Homo sapiens: one gene and its partners. The protein of the gene in region 1 purifies or fractionates together with the protein of each later gene. This does not show direct contact. Each region holds a gene or a part of one and is shown on either strand. Other genes may lie near its edges.

What was found.
Region 2: the proteins of FBXO38 (region 1) and ZXDB purify together in Homo sapiens (affinity purification with mass spectrometry; 2 studies listed by BioGRID and IntAct, with this or other methods). This does not show direct contact.
Region 3: the proteins of FBXO38 (region 1) and SUGT1 purify together in Homo sapiens (affinity purification with mass spectrometry; 2 studies listed by BioGRID and IntAct, with this or other methods). This does not show direct contact.

The regions. Positions count from the first base shown.
Region 1 is NC_000005.10:148,400,948-148,408,058, reverse strand, and holds part of FBXO38 (F-box only protein 38), read right to left. Parts: intron 6,078-7,111; coding exon 5,914-6,077; intron 5,712-5,913; coding exon 5,546-5,711; intron 3,375-5,545; coding exon 3,237-3,374; intron 1,803-3,236; coding exon 1,665-1,802; intron 1-1,664. UniProt on the Homo sapiens protein: Substrate recognition component of a SCF (SKP1-CUL1-F-box protein) E3 ubiquitin-protein ligase complex which mediates the ubiquitination and subsequent proteasomal degradation of PDCD1/PD-1, thereby regulating T-cells-mediated immunity.
Region 2 is NC_000023.11:57,587,330-57,595,028, reverse strand, and holds the start of ZXDB (zinc finger X-linked protein ZXDB), read right to left. Parts: upstream 3,019-7,699; 5' UTR 2,981-3,018; coding exon 569-2,980; 3' UTR 1-568. UniProt on the Homo sapiens protein: Cooperates with CIITA to promote transcription of MHC class I and MHC class II genes.
Region 3 is NC_000013.11:52,676,756-52,683,866, reverse strand, and holds part of SUGT1 (protein SGT1 homolog), read right to left. Parts: intron 3,894-7,111; coding exon 3,712-3,893; intron 1-3,711. UniProt on the Homo sapiens protein: May play a role in ubiquitination and subsequent proteasomal degradation of target proteins.

The DNA of each region.
Region 1 (7,111 bases):
CTATTGAGTTGCCTGCCTTTTTCTTATTCATTCCAGGAGTCCTTTATATCTTCCCAATACCCAGTATCTGTATTGCAAACAGCTTCTCCCATTCTGTAGCTTGGTTTTTCACTCTCTCTCTCTCTTTTTTTTTTGAGACAGAGTCTCACTCTCTCACCCAGGCTGGAGTGCAGTGGTGCGATCTAGGCTCACTGCATGCTCTGCCTCCCAGGTTCACGCCATTCTCCTGCCTCAGCCTCCCGAGTAGCTGGGACTACAGGTGCCCGCCACCACGACGGGCTAATTTTTTGTATTTTTAAGTAGAGACGGGGTTTCACCACGTTAGCCAGGATGGTCTCGATCTGCTGACCTCATGATCCGCCCGCCTCGGCCTCCCAAAGTGCTGGGATTACAGGCGTGGGCCACTGCGCCCGGCCGGTTTTTCACTCTCTCAATCATGCCTTTTGATGGACAAAAAAAAAAAAATTTTAATTTTAATTTGGTACAATTTATCAATATTTTCTTTATGGTAAATGCTTTTTGGTGTCCTGTTTAAGATGTCTTTGTGTACTCAAGGTCAACAAGACATTCTTCTAAGTTATTTTTTTAAATTTCATTTCAAAATTGTTCTCATCTGAATCTATGACCCATCTAGAATAAATTTTTGTGTGAGGTATGTTGACTTCTTGAGTAAAATACAAGGCAGGGTCACCCTTAAAAACTGATTAGAGAAGAAAAGTCTCTGTTTTTCTTTTAGGACCTTTATACAAACTCAGCTTTTAGCACCTCTCTACAGGTCTTCTCTCTAGTGAATACACCAGTAGCCTTCTTTTCGTTTTTGACTTTTATCTTGTTAACTATCGCCATCAATCAAAATACTGTTGGTTTTAAGGGGTTGTTTCATCCCACTGGCTAAATGTAATAAAGTACACTTATACCACACTTGACTGACAAAATGTCTAGAAATGTAGTGTTTACTCTTCATTATATTTCAACAGTATTAACTATAATGTCTGTTTGTTAACAATGGTACTTGATGACTTTCCATTTTATTTTAGAGAGCCAAAGTTAAGTTTTTGGTTTCCAACTATTAATCATCCATTTTGCTAAACCACTATTTTTTTTCTGCAATGAGATGTTTAACACAAAGCACATTCTGTTACGTATTATTTATCTATAGTTAAGTATACACAGAACAACTTTTTTCTTTTAAATATCATCATCTGATGGGTAAATCAATATCCAAGTAATATGTATAAAAGTATTTTTTATATTATAAAGTATTATGTGATAGAGATTAACATTATTAATGCCTAAATTTTTTTTGGAAGCCTCGGCTGTACAAGTTGTAAAACATCACCAAAGAACGCTAGAAATCCCTGTTAACATTTCTAAGAAAGATTCCATACATAAGAGGAGGTATTATTAGCTACATAAAAGTCAAAACAAGCCAGAAAACATGTCTTATCACTCTACTGTCTATTTTAAGAAAGTTTAATGTGCACCAAAAGAAAATGAATACTAGCTATGCTCATGGTTACTTACTGTCCATCAAATACAACAAAGAAAGCAGTTACTGACGAGCATTTTCTTTTTAAAGACTTGCCAGGGAAGTTAAATAAAAGCTTAATGATTATTTTAAGTTGATTTTTAAAAAATATTTAGTAATTAAAGAAAATGAATACCTGATCTCCAACTGTCTTCAACAACATGTTGGATAAGACCTCCAAGGAAAGGAACTCGAACCATTTCTAAGTGTTCCAAGTTTCGGGCAGAGGCTAAGCCTGTTACTAAAGGGACATATTTCAAGGAATTTGTGGGTCCTGGAAAAAAAAAAAAATCTTTGATAGAACAATGTAAAGTGCCTTAAAATGAATTTCAAATCAGTGAAAGACATGTATAACTTATAAACTCTAAGTCTTAAAATGACAGCCAAATTGGCTCTCTGAAATCAGGTTCTTGTTACAAATGAAAGTGTTAGCCTATTAACCATACACTTACTCAGCATAAAGGTTTTTCAGTAACACTGTAGAGATATGTAGTATTCCGTAAATTCTCTAAAGGCTCAATAGTTTTGAACTCAAACTAACTAATGGGAAAAAGTCAAGATAAAAATTTGATCCTTCACTCAAGTAAACAGCTCAATCATTTAATCATCTCTATGACCAGTGTTGCATTAGCTACTATAGAAGATCACAAAAGATATGGTCCTGTCCATCAAAAAACCTGCAGTTGACATGGAGCTAGAACTAACATAAGTAATTATAGAAGGATAAGAAGGCAGACTGCATCAAGTGTAAAAATAAGATCTGCCATACTCCATGAAAAAGAAAAAGAAAGAGGAGAAAAGTAAGTTGGAAAAGGCAGAACCTGAAGAACGCATACAAAAACAGAGGAAGAAAGTGCACATCTCAGGATAACGAAACAATAATACAGCATAAGAGAAGACATTGAGATGGAAAGCTGTATGGCTGACCAGGGAACAATGAATAGTCAAATGTGATGATAAAAGAAGATATATCTTGGAAAGGTGTCAGAATAAGGTTATCAAGAGGGGTCCTGGTTATCATGACCTTAAGCAGAGTAGTTCCCACTTAATGCTCTAGTGCAGCGGTGTCCAATATTTTGACATCACTGGGCCACACTGGAAGAGGAAAAATTGCCTTGGGCCACATTGGAAGAGGAAAAATTGTCTTGATATTAAAGATAGCTGATGAGCAGGAAAGAAAAAGAAGAAGAAGAAGAAAAAGCCTATGCATAAATCTCATAATGTTTTAAGAAAGTTTAAGAATTTGTATTGGGCATCATGTGGGCTGTGGCCAGTGGACCGTGGGTTGAACAAGCTTGCTCTAGGGCAACAGGGACACTAAAGATTTCTGTTTAGAAGGATAATACCATAAAAGCTATGTTTAAGGGAGATTAAGGAAGCCAACTATTTACATGCAGAATGATTCGGAGACCAGAAACAAAGTAAGAAGACTGAAATTTAATAAAACAATCCTAGGAAAAGTAAAAAGTACCCGTAAAAAATAGAGATATTCTGAGTTTTGTTTTTTTTTTTTTGCTGAGGTCAAACACAAATCATCTTTCTAATGTCTTTAAAACAAAAAGTACATTTATCTTCACAAGATGAATATGTTATAAGACATAAATAGTAATAGCATAATATAATTGTATTTACAAATGTAGCTAGAGTTTGCTTCAGGATATTTTTAGAATAACTTATGTTTAATTCCACCATAATTGTGTACCATTACCTGCACAGTTCCTCATGACGAAAGTTCTTAAGCTGATACAAAGGAAGTCTTTAAATGGCTGTGGTTTAGTGAGTCTTACCCACTTCATATAAAGGTGCCTTAGCATTGGGATACAAGGAATTTCAGGAACATTCACCCCTAAAACACAAATATAAAAAAGAACAAACAAGAAAAAAATCACAAAAATATACTATATTTTGCTTATAAGTTCAAGAGTCTATTTTTCATATTAACAGCTTAACCTTCAAGGATTTTTATCCGAACAAATTATACAAAATCTATCAAGTTTGCCTTATTTAAAACAGGCTTACAAAGAACAGTTTACGTAAACCATAAACTGACTTAACTTTTTTAGGAAAGGCCAATGGGAAGATAGAGTTTAAAAAGTATTTCTATGTCTTAGACATGTAAGTCTTTCTCATAATCTTACAACTCTTCTAGGATACGTTTTCCCAGAAGAGGTAAAGTGAAAATGGATTACTGAAAGCAAAACTATAACGATGGAGATGGAACACACAAATTTACTATTTGACTACCAACATCCACTGCCCCCTAGTAGGAGAACTATATTTCTCAGAGCAAAGTCAGCTAGATGGGTTTAAATATGCAAATAGATATCTGGAAGATAGCCAAACACAGAACTTTAAAAGCTGTTTTCTATAAATATATGAATCTTAAGAATTTGTAAATGTGTGGGAGAAGCCAGCCAGCATGGCTCTGAGAAAAGCAGAAACCTGCCAGTCATTTATTTTAGAATTTCAAATTGGTAAAGGTAATTTGATGCATGGGATCCAGGAGTGGCTTAATACTAGGAATCATATCCACAGAGGACCATGACCAGAAGAAGGGAGGTGTAGCGTGAGGTGAAAAAATACAGGAAATATGGATGAAAGAAGATAAAAGCCAAGGAAGGGACACAAATTTATTAAAGAAATCCAAGGATCCAGGATGATGGCATTTAACAAACAGTAGTTGGCAAAACTGTTTAATGCAATTTTTAAATTTGAGACAATAGGAGCTCTGCTAGCAAGAATAACTAGAGAATGTAAAATTGCAGTACTTGAATGGTCAGTTGTTTATAAAGGCTAAATTCTACCAAATGTTCTTATTGTAACCTACAAGGATTACCCCTTAACTTGTTCCTCTCAAAATAGCAGAGTTAAATTTAGTTTGAACTATGCACACACATTGTATAGCAACAAATGGGAAGTAAAATTAAGGATGAGACAAAAGGACAAAAAGCAGAAGTGAGGTACAGATTGAGATGTAAGATGCAGAAGTCACAAAGGTTAAATTTAGCATATATTGTAATACTATGAAGATGGTAGTACTGATTGTACTGATTAGGAAACCCAAGGAAGAAGGGTGAGACAGATGCAGAGAAGACAGTATACCCCAGGCCCAAACCACTTTCTGTCTCAAACAAACTCTATAAACAAAGGACATAACTGCCCATTCTCCTGGTAATGTTTATTTTTATTAATTTACCACACCTCTGCATCACCATAATACAGTGTTAAACTGTTAAATGATTCCCATAAATTAATGCATTTTAATAAAACTTACCCTGTACTTATATTTGCAATGAACTGTGACAGGCATTGTAGAAAATATAAAGATATGGAAATAAGTCTTTGACCTTAAGGAGCTTATATTATAAATTCCAGATATTACAGAATCCTTTTACATCTAAAAATCCAATTTCAAACTAGATATCACTCCCTGATCTTATAAATGAAGGGTTGCTAGAAATCTTTACTCTTCTCCCATAATTGTGTATCTAAGTCTTATTTAAGACCTACTCCTTATCATTCCTGATGCTCTCCCTGTACCACCTGAGTTTCAGAAATTTCCACTTCTTTAGACCATCCCCAATACCTAGAATAATGCTTAAAACACATATACTCTCTCTCTCTCTGTGTATGTGTGTGTATATATACAGAATAAAGTAGTAAACAAATATTAAAGGCCAGCTATATTAACAGGGACCCCCGAATTCCTTTCAGTGGCCTAAGCCAAAGGTGACAAATTTGAGAAAATATTTACACTTTTTACTTAAGTTGAAGTTACTGGTATATAATTTCAAAGAATATTCAGATGGAGAATGTACACTTGTGAAGCAGTATTTCCCTCACACCAGTGGATCTTTAATGGGAAATCGGAATTTTTATACAGATCTTGCAAACATTTATTTTGCAATCATCAATCAACAAAGCCATCTCTAAAATTCTCATTATTCTTTTTCAGTGAATATTCACATTTTATGGCATTTCAAGGAGTTACAAGTGACCCAAGAAACATGTACTCACCAACTAAATGTAAAGTTTGAATTTTGGCTCCTATAGGAATTTTCAGTTTATTTTCAGGAGGAATTGGAAAAGCTCCATTACGATTACGAAATTTCCCCAAAATATGAACATGGGGCATATATGTCCAAATGGATTCTACCAACTCCAAATGAGAAGTTTCCACACCCTAGAAAATAATGCCAAAGCAAGCATAAGAAAAGACTTTAGTTTAGCATCCAAAGCTTTATGTACCACAAGATGCTAAGTACACAATGGAACTTAAAAGTTTGTGACAGATGAGATTTGCATGTGAGTGAACACGTCTATCATTCTTTGGTCTATTATTTCATAAACAGTTGATGCCAAAATGTTCAACCAGGTGCACTCACCACTAAGTTTGGGCATGCCTGCAAAGCTTCTAGGACTCCTGGAATGCTAAAAGCCTCATGGCCCCTTACTCTTCGCCTCTCAAGGTATCGAGGGTGAAGGCCATATAGCTGTTCAACATCTGGCATCTTCTTTAATAGTGTTAGAAAACTGGCATCTGTAAAGCCTGAGAAGTTCAGAAGTATTTAGAGCCAGGTTCATCTTTCTGTTCATTAACATTTACTAGGCACTCGTGATTTTTACCAAAAGTTAAAAAAGACTTCCTCTTCAAATTTCCGTAAAGCTAACACTAAAGCTGAATAAACATAACAGAAAATATACTCCTTTAGTAACAGAGGAAATGAGTCAGAAACTCCACTTAATCTAAGTTAATACTTTATGGAGGAGGCTTTTATTATTGACTTTTTGGTTTTTGTTGCTTTTAAGGCATAGAAATCTTCAACAAAGAACACACTTTTAACCCAGATAACTTGGACCTATTTGGTGGATGGAGTGGGACCACCCACCTGATCACCACCACCCTCCTCCTCCCCCATGGGTACTCTCGTCTGTAAAACCTTCAGGACTCTATAGAACACATAACTAAAAATATAAATAAGATATGATCCTCATCGTTAGGAAGCTCACAGTTCTGACCTAATTCCTATCTCAAATTATTCTATCCATTTTCTAATAATTACTCTGATACTCTGTCATATGTTTAACTATTACTCCCCCGCCATTTTAGACAATTAATTCTTTTGAAAAAGACAGATGCAAGTTAGCTAAGAGAACCAGAGTGATCCAATCTCAGGGTATGCTGTTGATAGGAAGCTATCTATCCAGGAGACCATAGTAGGAATCAACAAGATGGGAACAGAGAGAGGCAGGTTACTTCCACAGCAGGAGCTGTTGGTTAAGTAAGTGGGGAGACAAGTCTCATATAGATCCTATTTTAATCTGTTACAAGGGCTTTTTTATTTTTAATGAAAGTGGTCAGAAAGCCAACTGTCTGCTTATTAATGACAAAGAAAAACATTAACTGTCAAGAACAAAAAGTAGGCCCCAAATATTTAAGTCTTACATACTTTTTTGAAAGTTGTTTTATTTTTAAGTTATCTCATTTAACATGTAAAGTCCAGACATGCTAACTTTAGTGAAGAGTAAGGAGAGACCAGAGATTACTTGGTCTCTAATTATAATAACAGTTCTTATTACTTT
Region 2 (7,699 bases), on another chromosome or scaffold:
ATAAAGAATATTTATGGATAAAATGATCAGATGTCTGCTATTTGTTACAAAATAATACTAGAACATGGGGAGTGAGTGAGGCTAAGTTAAAAAAGATTGTTCATGGATTCATAATTGCTGAAATTGAGTGAAAAGTACATGGATGTTCATCATAGTATGATGTAACATTATGTATGTTTGCCAAAAAAAGAACATGTCAGGGCTGGGGGGGCAGTTAAAAAAAAACGCATGCCACATCACTGAAAAACGTCCTCATATTTTTCAAGGAAAGAAATGTATTATCAAGGAATCACAGAGCAGAAAGACCTTAAAAGCAATCTATTCAAACCACCTCAATTTATAAATAAGGAAATTAAGGCTCAGATAGGTTAACTGACTTGCTCAGGGTCACACAACTTGTCAGTTCCAAACTCAAGATCAGAATTTAAATCTCCAAACTTGTAGTCCAGGGCTGTGCTCTTTTTGCAAACCAAAAAGAAATGACTGCACTTAAATATTTAGTCCAGAATATCCTCAAAATTGACTGTAATAAAAGTAAGCCACATGATGAGGAATGAATAGAGTTGGTTCATACCAAAAATGAGCTGCCAGTCACAGTGATAAGATCTGTTTCTTTCTGAGAACCATGGTTTCCTGCTGCATTGGGGAATCCAAACTGGGTTTCTCCCTCCTGTCCAAAGAAGTCAGAGTCAGGATGTACGTTCCACTCCGCTTTGGTTGGTGTCAGTAGTTCTGAGACACTGTTTTCACAAAGGGTGCTCGAAGGAGTCAGAGCATCTGTGTCCACTGTTAGCTTACTGCTGGGTGTCAAAGCCTGAGGCTCTGGACTGGAGTTTTTCATGGCCAAAGAGTCCAGAGATCCCAATGGCCCCACACTTACACTTGAGACCTCATCCATATTTAAGGAGCTCTGCTGAAAACCAGTGGCCGCCGTTCCAAAAAAGAGAGAGGTATCCAGACTTTGAGGAGGGTCGCTGGTGGCCATCAAGGACGGAGGGTCCACAGCCTGCCCTACGGAATTATTATTATTAGCAGGGAGGTGCCCTGCCAGAGTCGAGCTCACAGAAGCCACATCAATAGTCAAGATTCCAGAGTTCACCAATGCTGTGTCCAGCAATGCAGCAGAAGTACTGTCAGGTACATCAGAGAAGAGAGACACTATCTCTGCATCACTGAGATCATTCTGTCTCTGGCTGGTAAGTTCACTGCTGGGTGTGAGAGAATTTGCTGCTTCTAGCTGAGCTAAGAGATCCTGGCCCACCTTATGCCTTTTAACCATGTGCGTCTTCATGCTGTGCTTGGATGTGAAGAGTTTATTACAAGAGGAGATCGGGCAACGGCTTTTCCAAGTGTCCACATCCTGCAGGTGTTTCTTGGAGTGAATGTAGAGGCTACTGCGAGCAGAGAACCTGGCACAGCAGCCTGCCACAGGACACACGAAAGGCTTTGTGCCCAGGTGGGTTATGCTGTGGCCTTTCAGATGTTCCGCCCTCGTGAAAGATTTCCCACAGCCTTCCACAGGGCACATGAACCTCCGGTCATCGTCGTGCTTTCTTTTGTGCCTTAAGAGTTTGGACATGCTAGTGAAGTTCCAGCCACAGCCATCAAAGTCACAAAGGAAAGGTCTCTCGCCGGTGTGACTCCGCAGGTGAATTTTCAGCCTACAAGCCTTGTCATATTGTTTGCTGCAGCCAGGAAAAGAGCAGGAAAACAGTTCCTGTTCCCTGAAATGGGCGCGGTTATGGGAAAACAGAGCACTCACTGTGATAAATGTCTTCTTGCAGCCAGAAAACGCGCACTGGTAAGGCCTCTCCGGTTCGAAGTGGCTGCGCTGGTGGGCGCTGAGTTTGGCCTGCGTGGGGAAGCTCTCCTCGCACACCTCGCATTTGAATGAGTTCTCCTGCTCATGGCCCTTCATGTGCGCCTTGAGGTTGTACACTGTGGTGAAGCTCTTGCCACAGCCCTCTGCCGGGCAGCCAAAGGGCCGCAGTTTGTCGTGCGACTGCAGGTGCCTCTTGAGCTTGTAAGAGGTGGTGAAGGTCCAGCCGCAGCCACCCAGGGGGCATTTGAAGGGCCTCTGGCCCTGGCTGCTGCTGTGCGTCAGCAGGTGCACCTTCAGCTGGTGCTTCTTGGCGAAGGTTTGCCCGCACTGCGCCTCGGGGCACAAGTACAGCACCACGCCTGGGCCGGAGCCCAGCGGTCCGCGGGGGCCCAGGGCGGCGGCCGGGCCCTCCGCCTCCTCCTCAGGCGCCGGAGCTGGCGCGGGTTCGGCCGGCTCAGCTAGCAGGAGGTCTGGCGGCAGCTCTGGGCAGTCACCCGGGTGCGCGGCATGCGGGAACCCAGCTTGCGGGGCGATCAGACACCCGGGCTGCTGGGCAGGAGCGGCCCCTGGCTCCCAGGCGTGTGGTGGGGGCGTGGCCAGGGTGAGGACGCCGTTCTCAAAGCGCAACAGCAGGTCCTGGTTGTGGATAGTGACTGTGCCCGCGAAGGCCGCGGCGGGGCCGGGGGCGGAGATCGGGGCCGGAGTGGGAACCGCGGACAGGCAGCGGGGGCCTAGCGCAGTGGGCCCCGCGGGATTCGCGCCGCTCTCGCCCCCCTGGAGCCCCGGGCCCTCCTCGGCCTCCTCCCTCAACACAGGCCCTGCGGCCTGACCGGAGCCCGCGGTCTCCACGTCGCCACCCACCGGGTCAAGCAGCACCAGGAAGAAGTCGTCGCCGCCGCCGCCGCCGCCGCCGCTAGGTTGATCGGTCCTCGGCGCCAACAGGCTTGGGCCAGGGCCCCGTGATGCCGTGCTGGCCTCCTCGCGCCGCCGCCCGGGCCCGCCATCTTGGGGGCCCCGGAGCAGCAGGAGGCGGCGCGTGGGGACCTGGCCAGCCGGCGAGTCAGGGCCTCGGTGGACTCGGCCGCCACCCGCGGGGATACCGCCGCCGCCGCCGCCCTGTAGTGTCCCGCGAGCCGGGAGCAGCTTCGGGATTTCCATCTCTGCGTCCGAGAGGCTCGGCTGGAACCAGAGCCGAGGAGGAGGCGCGATCCCGCCCCCTGCCGCGGGCCTGAACACGTTCCTGAAAGGGGAAAAAAAAATGTGCAATGCGCAGAAACTGGCCCTATCAGATATTAAAACGTATTTAACGCCACAGTGATTTAAATATTCTGGTACTGGGTCTCTGGAACAGAATAGAAAGCCCAGAGGTAGAGCCTGGTATGCATAAATACGTTCTACAGTTAATATAAGTAAGTAATTAAGGGGGTCTTCTGAGGTAATGGGGAAATGACGACAGCTTGTTCAGTAATGCTGTGGAACACCTAGGTATCTATCCGCTGGAAGCAATTTTAATCCATGACTCATTGTATATACCCAAATAAACACACCCCAGCCCCTCCCAGTGTTAGATATGTTGCTTCGTACTTTCTGTGTGTTAAAATTTGCTGGCTGGCTGGCTGGCTGGACTGATGGATGAAAGACAATTCCTGAGAGAAAAAACTGTCTCTGTGTCAGCATTAAACCACCATAGCGCTGGCAGTTCTGCTGAAAATGTCCTTCCCCTTCCCACCTCCCCGCGGGACAACTTCCATATTCACAATTATCTTGAGCAAAGTCTTCGGTACAATTTGCCGCATAGTTCAAATTTTGTCTTGCTGATACAGACATTAGAATGAGTGAGAGATGCGGCCAAAACAGGTTAGCACTCTTCAGCCTAGAAATTCAAAGTCTGGAGGATGAAACAATTTACACTGAAATCTGGAAAAAACCCAACCTTCTCCTGGCTTCTCCCTATACAGTGCACAACCTAAACCAACTTTTGCCCTTCCACCATCGGTTGTACTGTGATAAATTTCATGTCTGCTCTCACAGCACAATGAGGGCATTCATTCCTCAGTTTACTCTGCCTTCTCCAGCACGTGGAGGTCTCTGGGCAGGAGTTTCAGTTAAATGTGTTTAGGTTAAATCCTGAGTCACTGCAATGGATTCTGCCAAGTAAAAGGCACAGACGATCTTGTCCAATCAACCTGGTGTACCTGTTCACATTTAAGTGTGGTGGCCCAGGCTTGCTGGGCCTGTGGTGCCTAATGATCTTATTAATGATGATGACAATCCTTCATTTTGTCCGTTACGACTGAGTTGGGAATTGACACAAATATAGGGTGAAATATCTGAGATAAGAAAGCTTAGAGTAATGACTAGATTGGTGGTGGTGGGGGAGCGGGGTGTAACCTGTTGTTTAAATACTCCCAGCTCTCTCGCCCTCTTTTAATGACAGTGGACACTTGGTCTCTTGAAAATCAAGCTATTCATCCATAACTATTTGAACCTCATCAAAATGTCTACTCCACATACTTTTCTTTCTATTACTTTTTCTGGTGGAAGCATTTTTCAAATCTGAGGTATAGAAGAGTGCATAAAACATATTTGTATCGTTTAGATTATTTTACAAAAGCAGACACCTGTGTAACCAGGACCAAGGTCAAGCAATAGACCACTGCCAGCCTTCCAGAATACAGCCGCTGTACTCCTCCCAATCACAACCCACACTCTCCTATATGAATATAGTCATTGCCCTGACTTTGTAATAATCATTTCACTGCTTTCCTTTATAGCTTTATCACTTTTGTACGCATCCGTAAACAATAGAGTTGATACGAAGTTGTATAAATGGAATCATACGGCAAGTTTCCTTTTATAACTTGTTTCTTTCACTCTGTATTATACTTGAGACTCATCCATGTTGTTCATAATAGTTATAAGTAAGTAGATCCTTTGTCTCCATCGACTGTCGTTCCAGCATATGCTTATAGCAAAGTGATTATGGTATGATTATACCACTCCATTCTACAGCAGATGAACATTAGGATTGCTTCTATTTTTCAGCGATTATTATGAACATTCTTGCACATTTCTCATGGGACACATGTGTAAAAATCTCTCTAGGGTATATATCCAAGAATAGAATCACAGGGCCATAGGGTATGGATATCCTGAGCTTTACTAGATGATGCCAAATTGTTCTCTGTAGTGATTGGGCAAGCTGTCAATCCCACCAGCAGCACAGAGAGCCCCTACTGCTCCACATCTTCACCCACACCAAGTATTGCCAGAATTTAAATTTTGCCAGTCTACTGGTGGGCAATACCCAAATTACTAGTAAGCTTTAGCACATTTTCGTGTTTATGAGCCTTTTGGAGTGTCTACTCCGAAGAAGGCCTATTCAAATTTACCTCTTTTAACCCATGTTTCTATTCTATTGTTCATCTAGTACTTACTGACTTAATGAGCCTGTTAAATATTTTAAATACTAGTCCATACCTGTGGCCAAAATATTCCCTTGTTCTGTTTGTATTTCCCATTGCTTTGTGCTGTGTTTTGTGAACAGAAGATCTTAATTATAATATAGTCAAATTCATCATTCTTTTCCTGATGGTTAGTGTGTTTTTGTTTTAAGAAATCTGTTTTAAGAAATCTTTTCTGTTTTAAGAAACCCTGGGCCATGAAAGCGTTTTCTATATTTTCTTCCAAAATACGTATGCTATTGCCCTTCACAGTCAGGTCTTAATCCACCTGCAATTGATGTTTGTATATTGTGTTGAGTGGGGTTCCATTTATTTATTTATTTATTTATTTGTTTGAATATCCAGTTTTCTCAGTGAACCACTTATTGAAAAGTCTGCCTTTTGCCAACTGATTTACAGTGCCATAAATCAAGTATCTACCCATATGTGGGCTAGTTCCTATACTCGCTATTAAGTGCTCGGCCCTATTTGTTTGAAATATCACACTGTCTTAATTACTACAGATCCATAGTCAATTCTGATATTTGGATAAGGCAGTAAATTCTACATCTTTCTTCAAAAGTGTCTTGGCTACTTTTGGCCCATTTCAATTCCATTTAAATTATAAACTCATCATAAAAACTTCAACCAACAGCTAGTTTGGGGTTCTAATTCATATTGTGCTGATATTTTAGATTTGACTTCTCAATATTGAAAGTTTGGTTCATGGCTTTGGTCTGTCTCTCCTTTTAATAAGGTCTCCTTTAATGTGCCCAAGTAATACTTTATATTTTTCCCAAAAGGCAACTTTTTTGTCCTAGGCACTTCATATTGTGCAAATCCTGTTTGGAATTTTTACTGTCTAAATTTGTTTCTGGTAAATAAATAGGATGCAATTGACTTTTGTTCATTAAGATTTTATCCTACAAGCGTATAAACTCTTCTATTGATTCTAATAATTTGTCTGTAATACTTTGTGGAATTTTATGTACACTGTCATATCATCTGTAAATAGTGCCAGTCTTTCTTCTTCCTTTCCAAATATCTTATTTCTTTTTCTTGCTCTACTGCTCTGTCTGGGACCCCATCACCACCCCCAGTAAACTATTGAATAGAAGTGGTGATAGTGGACATCCTTACTTGATGAAGCTCTTAAAGAGAAAGCTTTCAGTGATTCTCCATTAAGAATGATGCTTGCTGTAGATGTTGTGTTCTGTAGCAATATAGATTCAATCCAGAGATAGAAAGCACACAGTGATCTAGAAAGAGAAGGTTTAATATAAAGAATCATTAAACTATGATAAAATATCTTATATAGAATACAAGACAACTCTATATGGGGTTTTCTGGGACTGGGGGAGAGTATCCAAGGAAAGACAAACTTAGAATGAAAGCTTCTCCCCAAGGCTGGATTTCATACCTAATTGGAGAAGAACCCACTGGATGGCAGAGAAGTTCCACTGGTTTGCCAGTACCTGAGCTGGTCTGCAGAGCTAGAACTGGTCTACGATCACAGAGGAAGCAAGAAGCCCCCCTTTGAAGCACGGTAGTGTGGACAAGCAATAGCTGGTGGCTAGTAAGTGGGTGTGAAGTAGGGGTTGGGGGGCCTGGCTCAGTTGGAGGCCTGGAGTAAACAATGCTCCATGCACAGGATTAGGGTGGGGTCTCAGTGTTGAGATGGCTGCAGTATTGACAGGACTACATGAACCTGGTCGTGTGTGTGTGTGTGTGTGTGTGTGTGTGTGTGTGTGTGTGGCTGTGGAGCAAGTGAGCAGAGAGAAGCAGTAGGCAGATGACTTGGAGAACAGCATGTCCCTATCAAGAAGGCCACAAGAAGCTGATCATTAGGGCACAGCAGGACTGCAGGTTTGCTGAGAGACAGTTGTTCTGGGCCCAGGCCTGAGACAAAGCTTCTTGAATGTCCTCACGTCCACAACTCTGAGAACCAGAAATCATAGAAGTACCACTTCCTCTTTCAGTGTCTGTCCCTACAGAGCCCCCTATTAAGTAAGTGTAACATTATGCTCTTCGATGTTACTTTAAAGGAGAGATGCTTAAAGAATCCCTCTATTATCAAAGAATATATATTGAAGGGTGAATTTGGAGCTGAGAGGTAATAAATTGATAACTGGCTTCATATCCTGTATCAGGTTAGAGGAGTCCACACTCTCTGTAGTCAGTATCAATAGTAGGCACCCTACCTGCCGGGTTATAGTTGTTGATTGCACAAGGGAGATTATCTACCACCCTGTTTTTGCTCTGGTAAGCCTAGACTTCACCACTGGGTAATATATCCATGTAACAACAAGTACATGGTACTTATCCATGTACTTGTACCCCCTAAAGATATACAAATGGTTAAAGTAACGGGCCTGGCTATTTCAGGGGTTTTAGTTGACTATTTAGGATTCTTGGTGGGCTCAGTGTTCCCAGG
Region 3 (7,111 bases), on another chromosome or scaffold:
ACTATACAAACACTGACAACTTGGACAAAATGGATAAATTTATCAGAAACAAACCACAAGTCACCCATATGAAATAGATAATTGGAACAGTCCTATAAAAACTTTTAGGTTAACTAAATTCATAACTGTAAATCTCCTAATAAAGAAATCTCCAGGCCCAGACCGTTTCACTGGTGAGTTCTACCAAATACTTAAGAAAAGTTAACACCAATTATACACAATATCTTCTAAAAAACAGAAGAGGATGCAATGCTTCCTAATTCATTTTATGAAGTATTACTCTGATGCCAAACCAAAGATAGCACAAAAAGAAAATTAGACTCATATTCCTCATGAATATAGACACAATAACCCATAACAAAACATTAGAAGATAGAATTAAGAGATACACTATATGACAAAGTAGGGCTCATGCAAGACTGTCTCAATACTTGAAAATCAATCATATTAATCATATAAAATCACCATATTAACAGGCTAAGGAAGAAAAATCATATAATCCTATCAATCAACACAGACAAAACATCTGACAAAAAGTTAATATTGAAAGTTAATGATAAAAAAATTTCAGAAAAATAGGAATACAACAGAACTTTCATAACTTGACAAAGATCATCTACCAAAAATTTACAGTTAACATTATACTTAATGATGAAACAACAGATACTTTTCCCTTAAAATGGGAAACAAGGCAAGGATGTCCACTCTCACTACTCTTATTCAACACAGTGCGGAAGTTGCAGCCAGTGAAATATAGCAAGAAAAGGAGATAAAAGGCATACAGATAGAAAAGGGAGAAATAAAACTCTCCGTATCTGCAGATAAATAAAACCTCCATATTTGAAGATGATTGTCCACATTAAAAAAATGACAATCTATCCAAAAATACTCCTAGAACTGAGTCCAGCAATGTCACAGAATACAAGATAAACATAAAATTAACTGTATGTCTAGATTCTAGTAATGAACACCAAAATTATATATAATCACTTTATTCTAAAATTTACATGGAAAGACAAATGAGTTAGAATATCTAAAAACAATTGTGAAAATAAAGGATAAAGTAGGAGGAATGAGTCTGCCCAATTTCAGACTTAAACAGCTACAGCTTAAGACAGTGGGACTGACAGAGGAACATACATATAGATCACATACAGCTCAATCTAACACAGTGGGGAACTTAGAAATAGACTCACACAAATACGCTCAACTGATTTTTAAGAAAGGTGCAAAAGCAATTCAATGAGAAAAGATAGGTGCCAGAACACCCGAACATACTATCCACCCCACAAAAAGGAACCTCAAGTTAAATCTCACACTTGACATAAAAATTCAAAATGCATCACAGACTTAAATGTAATATGTAGGCCAGGTGCTGTGGCTCACGCCTGTAACTCTAGCACTTCAGGAAGCCAAGGCCGAAGGACTGCTTGAGGTCAGAAGTTCGAGACCACCCTAAGCAATACGGAGACACCCCCACCTCTACAAAAAATTTTAAAAATTAGCCAGGCATGGCAGCATGGATGTGTAGTCCCATCTACTTGGGAGGCTGAGGCATAAGGATCACTTGAGCCCAGGACTTTGAGGTTACAGTGAACTGTGACTGTGCCACTGTACTTCAGCCTGGGTGACAGAATGAGACCCTGTCTCTAAATAAAAAATAAATGTAATATGTAAAACAATATTACTTTTATTTATTTTTTAAATAGGAGAGAGTCTTTGAGATCTAGGACTAGGCAAAGAGTTAATAAGACCTGAAACTAAAAGCATGATCCATAAAAAGCGGTAAATTAGACTTAATCAAAATGAAATATTTTGGTTCTATGAAAGACCCTATTAAGAAAATGAAAACTACATACTGGGAGAAAATATGTGTAAACTACATATCTGACAAAGATTGCCAGATTTGTGATCATCAGGGATCATGGAAGGGTGGGGGTGGGGTTAGTATGGCCATAAGATAGCAACATAAGGGATCCTTGGAATCCATGAAAATGTTCTATCTCTCTCTCTCTCTTTTTTTTTTTTTTAAAGAGATAGGGTCTCACTTTGCTGCCCAAGCTAAGTGTAGTGGCACGATCATAGCTCACTGCAACCTTGAACTCCTGGGCTCAAACAATACTCTTGCCGCAGACGCCTGAGCTGACAGGGGCACAACATCATGCCAAGGTAGCTTTTAAATTTCTTGTAGAGACCAGAACTTACCATATTGTCCAGGCTGGTCTAGCCTCAAGGGATCCTGTGGCCTCAGACTCCCAAAGCACTGGGATTAAAGGTTCCCTATCTTAACTGTCAGTATCATGGTTGTGATGTTGTAGCATAGTTTTGACAAAATGTTTCCATCAATGGAAACTTTGTAAAAGGTACAAAGAATCTCATTTCTTAGGATTGCATGTCAATCTACAATTATCTCAAAACTAAAAGTTTAATGAAGACTTTTTTTTTTTTTTTGAGACAGGGTCTCTGTTGCCCAGGCTGTAGTTCAGTGGCACAAAAAAACAGCTCACTGCAACCTTGACCACCCAGGCTCAAGAGATCCTCCCACCTCACCTTCCCAAGTAGCTAAGACCACAGACACATGCCACCAGGCCTAGCTAATTTTTTTTTTTTTTTTGTAGAGATAGGGTCTCTCTATGTTGCCCAGGCTAATCTCAAGATCTTTAGCTCAAGTGATCCTCCCACCTCAGTCTCCCAAAAGTGATGAAAAAAAATTTTTTAATCAATAGTGAGGCTGGTTGAGGTGCCTCACGCCTGTAATCCCAGCACTTTGGGAGGCTGAGGCGGCTAGATTGCTTGAAGCCAGGAGTTCGAGACCAGCCTGGGCAACGTGGCGCAACCCCACCTCTACAAGAAATAAAGTAGCCAGGCGTGGTGGTGCATGTCTATAGTCCCAGCTACTGCAGAGGCTGAGGTAGGAAAATCACTTGAGCCCGGCAGACAGAGGCTGCAGTGAGCCGAGATCACGCCACTGTACTCAAGCCTGGGCAACAGAGTGAGACCTTGTCTCTAAATAAATAAACTGTGAAAAGCACAATCATGACCAATTACCACAGATTTCTTAAGTGTGAAATACCTAAGCCTCAACCACATTAACTAAATATTAAATTAAAATACTAATTTTAACTTTCTACTGTAAATATGTCTTAAAAGAGTCATATTTCCAGAGCTACTGGTATTAATAAAAGTCACATGATTACAACTGCAAGCTAAATATACAATGACGAATTATTACTAAAATTTTGAGGTCTAATTTAGGTATTTATGCTGCCCTGACAAAAAGCCTGAATTTTCTTAATCAAGAGAGTTGTTAAACCAATGAATAACGTGCACCTTCTACTTGCAAACACTATTCTGAAAAGTTTCGTATCTATATTCTTCATCTCTAACACTGAGGCTACATATGAGTCTAGAAGGGAAACAACAGAAGTTCACTCAGCTACTGGGATAAATCCAAGTGAGATGACTCCATATCAATCTAACTCACTGATAAAAAATACCTATTTAAGATAAACCACTTGTTTCTCATCTCTTCCATAAGTTTTCAACTTCCTCAAAAATTACTCTTAGAGCAAAAAGAAACGTTCAGACAGACCTTATTCAAAAAGTTCTCCCAGCTATAGTACACGCAATTTGGTCTCACATTACCAATTTTCTCGTTTAAAATATGTAAAATTTGCTCCCATATATATTTCTTTAAGTTTATATTCTTACAAAGGATTTGTTCATGGCACGTTTCACTTCATCAGAACCATCTGAATAGATCTGCTGAAATAATCTGTTTAAAGCTGCATCTCCCTCCAACTTTTCATTCTTTTCTTCTTCTTTGATCTCACCAACCAATTTATCCCAATTTCTTGTATAAGGAGATGATGATGGATATAGGTTCTTTACATCTATGAAGTAAAAAAAGGCAGAAGTAATTAATCAACATGTTTCAATTATGTCGAGAATATGTAAACTTTGTGACCATGTATATGGAACATCTTAGCAAACAGTTTAGGTTACTGAATTTCAGGTATGCAATAAGTGTCTTTCTGGTATATAGGTCAATAACAAAATTCACATTTCTAAAAACTGAGTCAGTTACCATAATGTAAAATCTGGGGATTTCTTTTGAGCAAAATAACTCAATAAAGTGTAAACTTTTGATATGCTATACAAAATTAGATTAAAAGCAGATTCTTCATGTTGATAACAGAAACTAGATGAAAAGTATACAGAACTTTTATGTTTTCAGAAAAGTTGCAGAGACAGTACGAACAATTCTAAAAATGAAATTTTTTAAAGGATGCCTAAGAAATCTTTTGTAACTAAGATTTTAATAAATGTTAAAAATGTGACTTTTTCTAAAGTACTTAGTATCTTTCAGAGTATAAATAGCCTGAAAATATAAATAATCATCCATGCCACTCCATACTCTCCCATCAAAAAAGTAAGATTATTTTAATAGGCAATAACAGTAAGTAATTTCTAAATGTTTAAAGTACTACACTTGATGATCTAAAGTTCAATGCCCACATCCCATACACCTAGCAAATAATAGTATTTGTAGGGCACACTGGAGTAAACAGAGCTGCTTGCAGCGAGAGAGGCTACTGGCCCAGGGGCTCGGGGTACTGCCAAGATTGCTCCAAAGACCAAAGGCATCAAGATCTTGGCACACAAATAATTAGAAAATAACTAGACAACCTAGTAGCTATAGGAGCAGCTCTGTTGACTATCCAATGAAAATATAATGACAGCCTCAAATGTGAGTCACATATATAATTTAAAACTTCCTAGTAACTACATTACTAAAAAGAATCAGGTGAAATGCAGTTTAATAATACATTTTATTTAACCTGATATATCAAATATAGTATCATATTGACTTGAAACCAACAGAGGCCGGGCATGGGGGCTCACACCTATAATCCCAGCACTTTGGGAGGCCAAGTAGGAGGATTGCTTGAGGCCAGAAGTGTGAGACCAGCCTGGGCAACATAGTGAGAGCCCATCTCTATGAAAAAAAAATAATAATAATTAGCTGGGCGTGGTGGCACATGCCTGCAGTACCAGCTACTCGGAAGGTTGGGGTAGAGGACTGCTTGAGTCCAGGAGGTTGAGGCTACACTGAGCCATGACAGTGCCACTGCATTCCAGCCTGGGTGACACAGCAAGACTCTCTCTTAAAAAAAAAAAAAAACCAACAAAAAAAATGAAGATATTTTATATTCTTTTTTTCATACTAACTCTTCAAACTGTAGCATATATTTCACATAGCACATCATCTCAATGCAGACTAGTCATATTTCAAGTGCTCAACAGGTAACATGTGGCTAGCAGCTACTGTGTTGGACAAAAGAGCTACAGTTTTCAAAAAACCCAATTCAAAATTTCCCCATCAGTATGTATTAGGACACATTAGTACTAATCTAAATGTTCCTCCCAATACTGCTCTCTACATCCCTTTTGTCAAAATAGCTGAGAAACTAACATCCACTGTTTTTCTACGCTTTCTCTTCACTTGTAAACCGACTTTCTCCCTGCCCATTCCTCCTCAAAACAAAACAACACACACAACACCAACACATAGTTTTTTTTCAGGGCCAAATATATTGTTTTGAAAATCCTATCCACCTTCCTTCTACTAGATATCCTTCTATCTTTGTACATTTTCACTAGTAGCCAGGTAAAACAAAAAATGCGTGCCATGGTAAGTTAAGAGCCTGGGAAATATGGATTTAATTAATCCTAATGCTGACTCCCAGGAAGGATGAGAACAGAGGTTTTAATCTCTATTTTGTAGATAAGCAAGCTGGGTCAGATAGGTTAAGTGACTTGCCCTTATCTACAGTCTCCAGCTTGCAATACACAGGAATCTGACAAGTATATTAATTTCTTACAAAAACAGGACAGGAAGAGTATCATCTTGAATATCTAAGGTGTTGAGTTTAGAAAAAACATGGTAACTGTAACACTAAAAAGCCTTGATCTTTAATCTCAGAAAAACTTTTAACACCTGGAGATGGCAGATGAACTACTGAGAGATGAGTAATCTAACCTCCCTGCTCATTCACTATAATATCAAATAACTACTAGATACTCATGTCGGCAAAGACTGTTTCCATTGTTAGAAAATGCAACAACAAGCAGTATGCAACAAGTAGACAACGGGTTAACAGAATAACTGGACCCAACTGAGAAGACCTAGATTTTAGTCCTAGACAATGAGAACTGAGGGATAATCTTGAGCTTAACTTTTCTGAGCCTGCAAAATGGGAGGAATACTAAGGGGCTGCCTGTTATGCAGGGCTGTTAGAATTAAGTAAGATACTACATTTAAAGTGATTATATATTTTTTAAAGCTTTCAGCTACATATAAACCTCAGCCTCAAAATCTATTGGAGTCAGTCCTAAAAGAAACACATACATCTTTCAAATAAAGTGTGAAGCAGATGCTTAAATACCTTAAATACCAACTAGATATACTTCAGTCCTTAAAAAGTATCTGTTGGTGTTAATACCCTGATTTTGAAAATTATACCACAGACTACTTAAGAGGTAATCATTGGACTAGTTAAGACACTATCAATGGGGGAAACTGGGTGAAAGCTATATGAGAATCTCTTATTTTTGAAATTTCTAAACATCCAAAATTATTTCTTAAGAAATAACTATACACACACACACAAACACACACACAAATGATCTGTTGAATAACTCAGTGTTTTCTAAAAGGTGCCACAAGGAAATGTGTTTTCTGTTACAGAAGAAAGCAGTCAAAATCAGAAAAAGCTGAGACACATGTTAGCTTGTTTCAGTCATTAAATCAGACCATTACTTCCAATAAAAAGAAATTTCCCTCCACTCATTAATGAAGCTATTGCTATAAAATATAATCTTAGGTTGTAGTTCTGAGTGTGCTGTGAATTTGTCCACTAGAAAAATTCTTACCTAGTTATTGCACATACTTAAAATTGACCTCAACACAAAGTTCTGTTTCTTACAGGGTTATATATACAATGAAGCCTGGTTTTCTACTCTTCTCCTAGACTTTCCTTTGGCATTTACCACCTATTTGCGTCCATCTCTAAATTAGCAATAAGAAATGGGGTAGATACCTTACCCT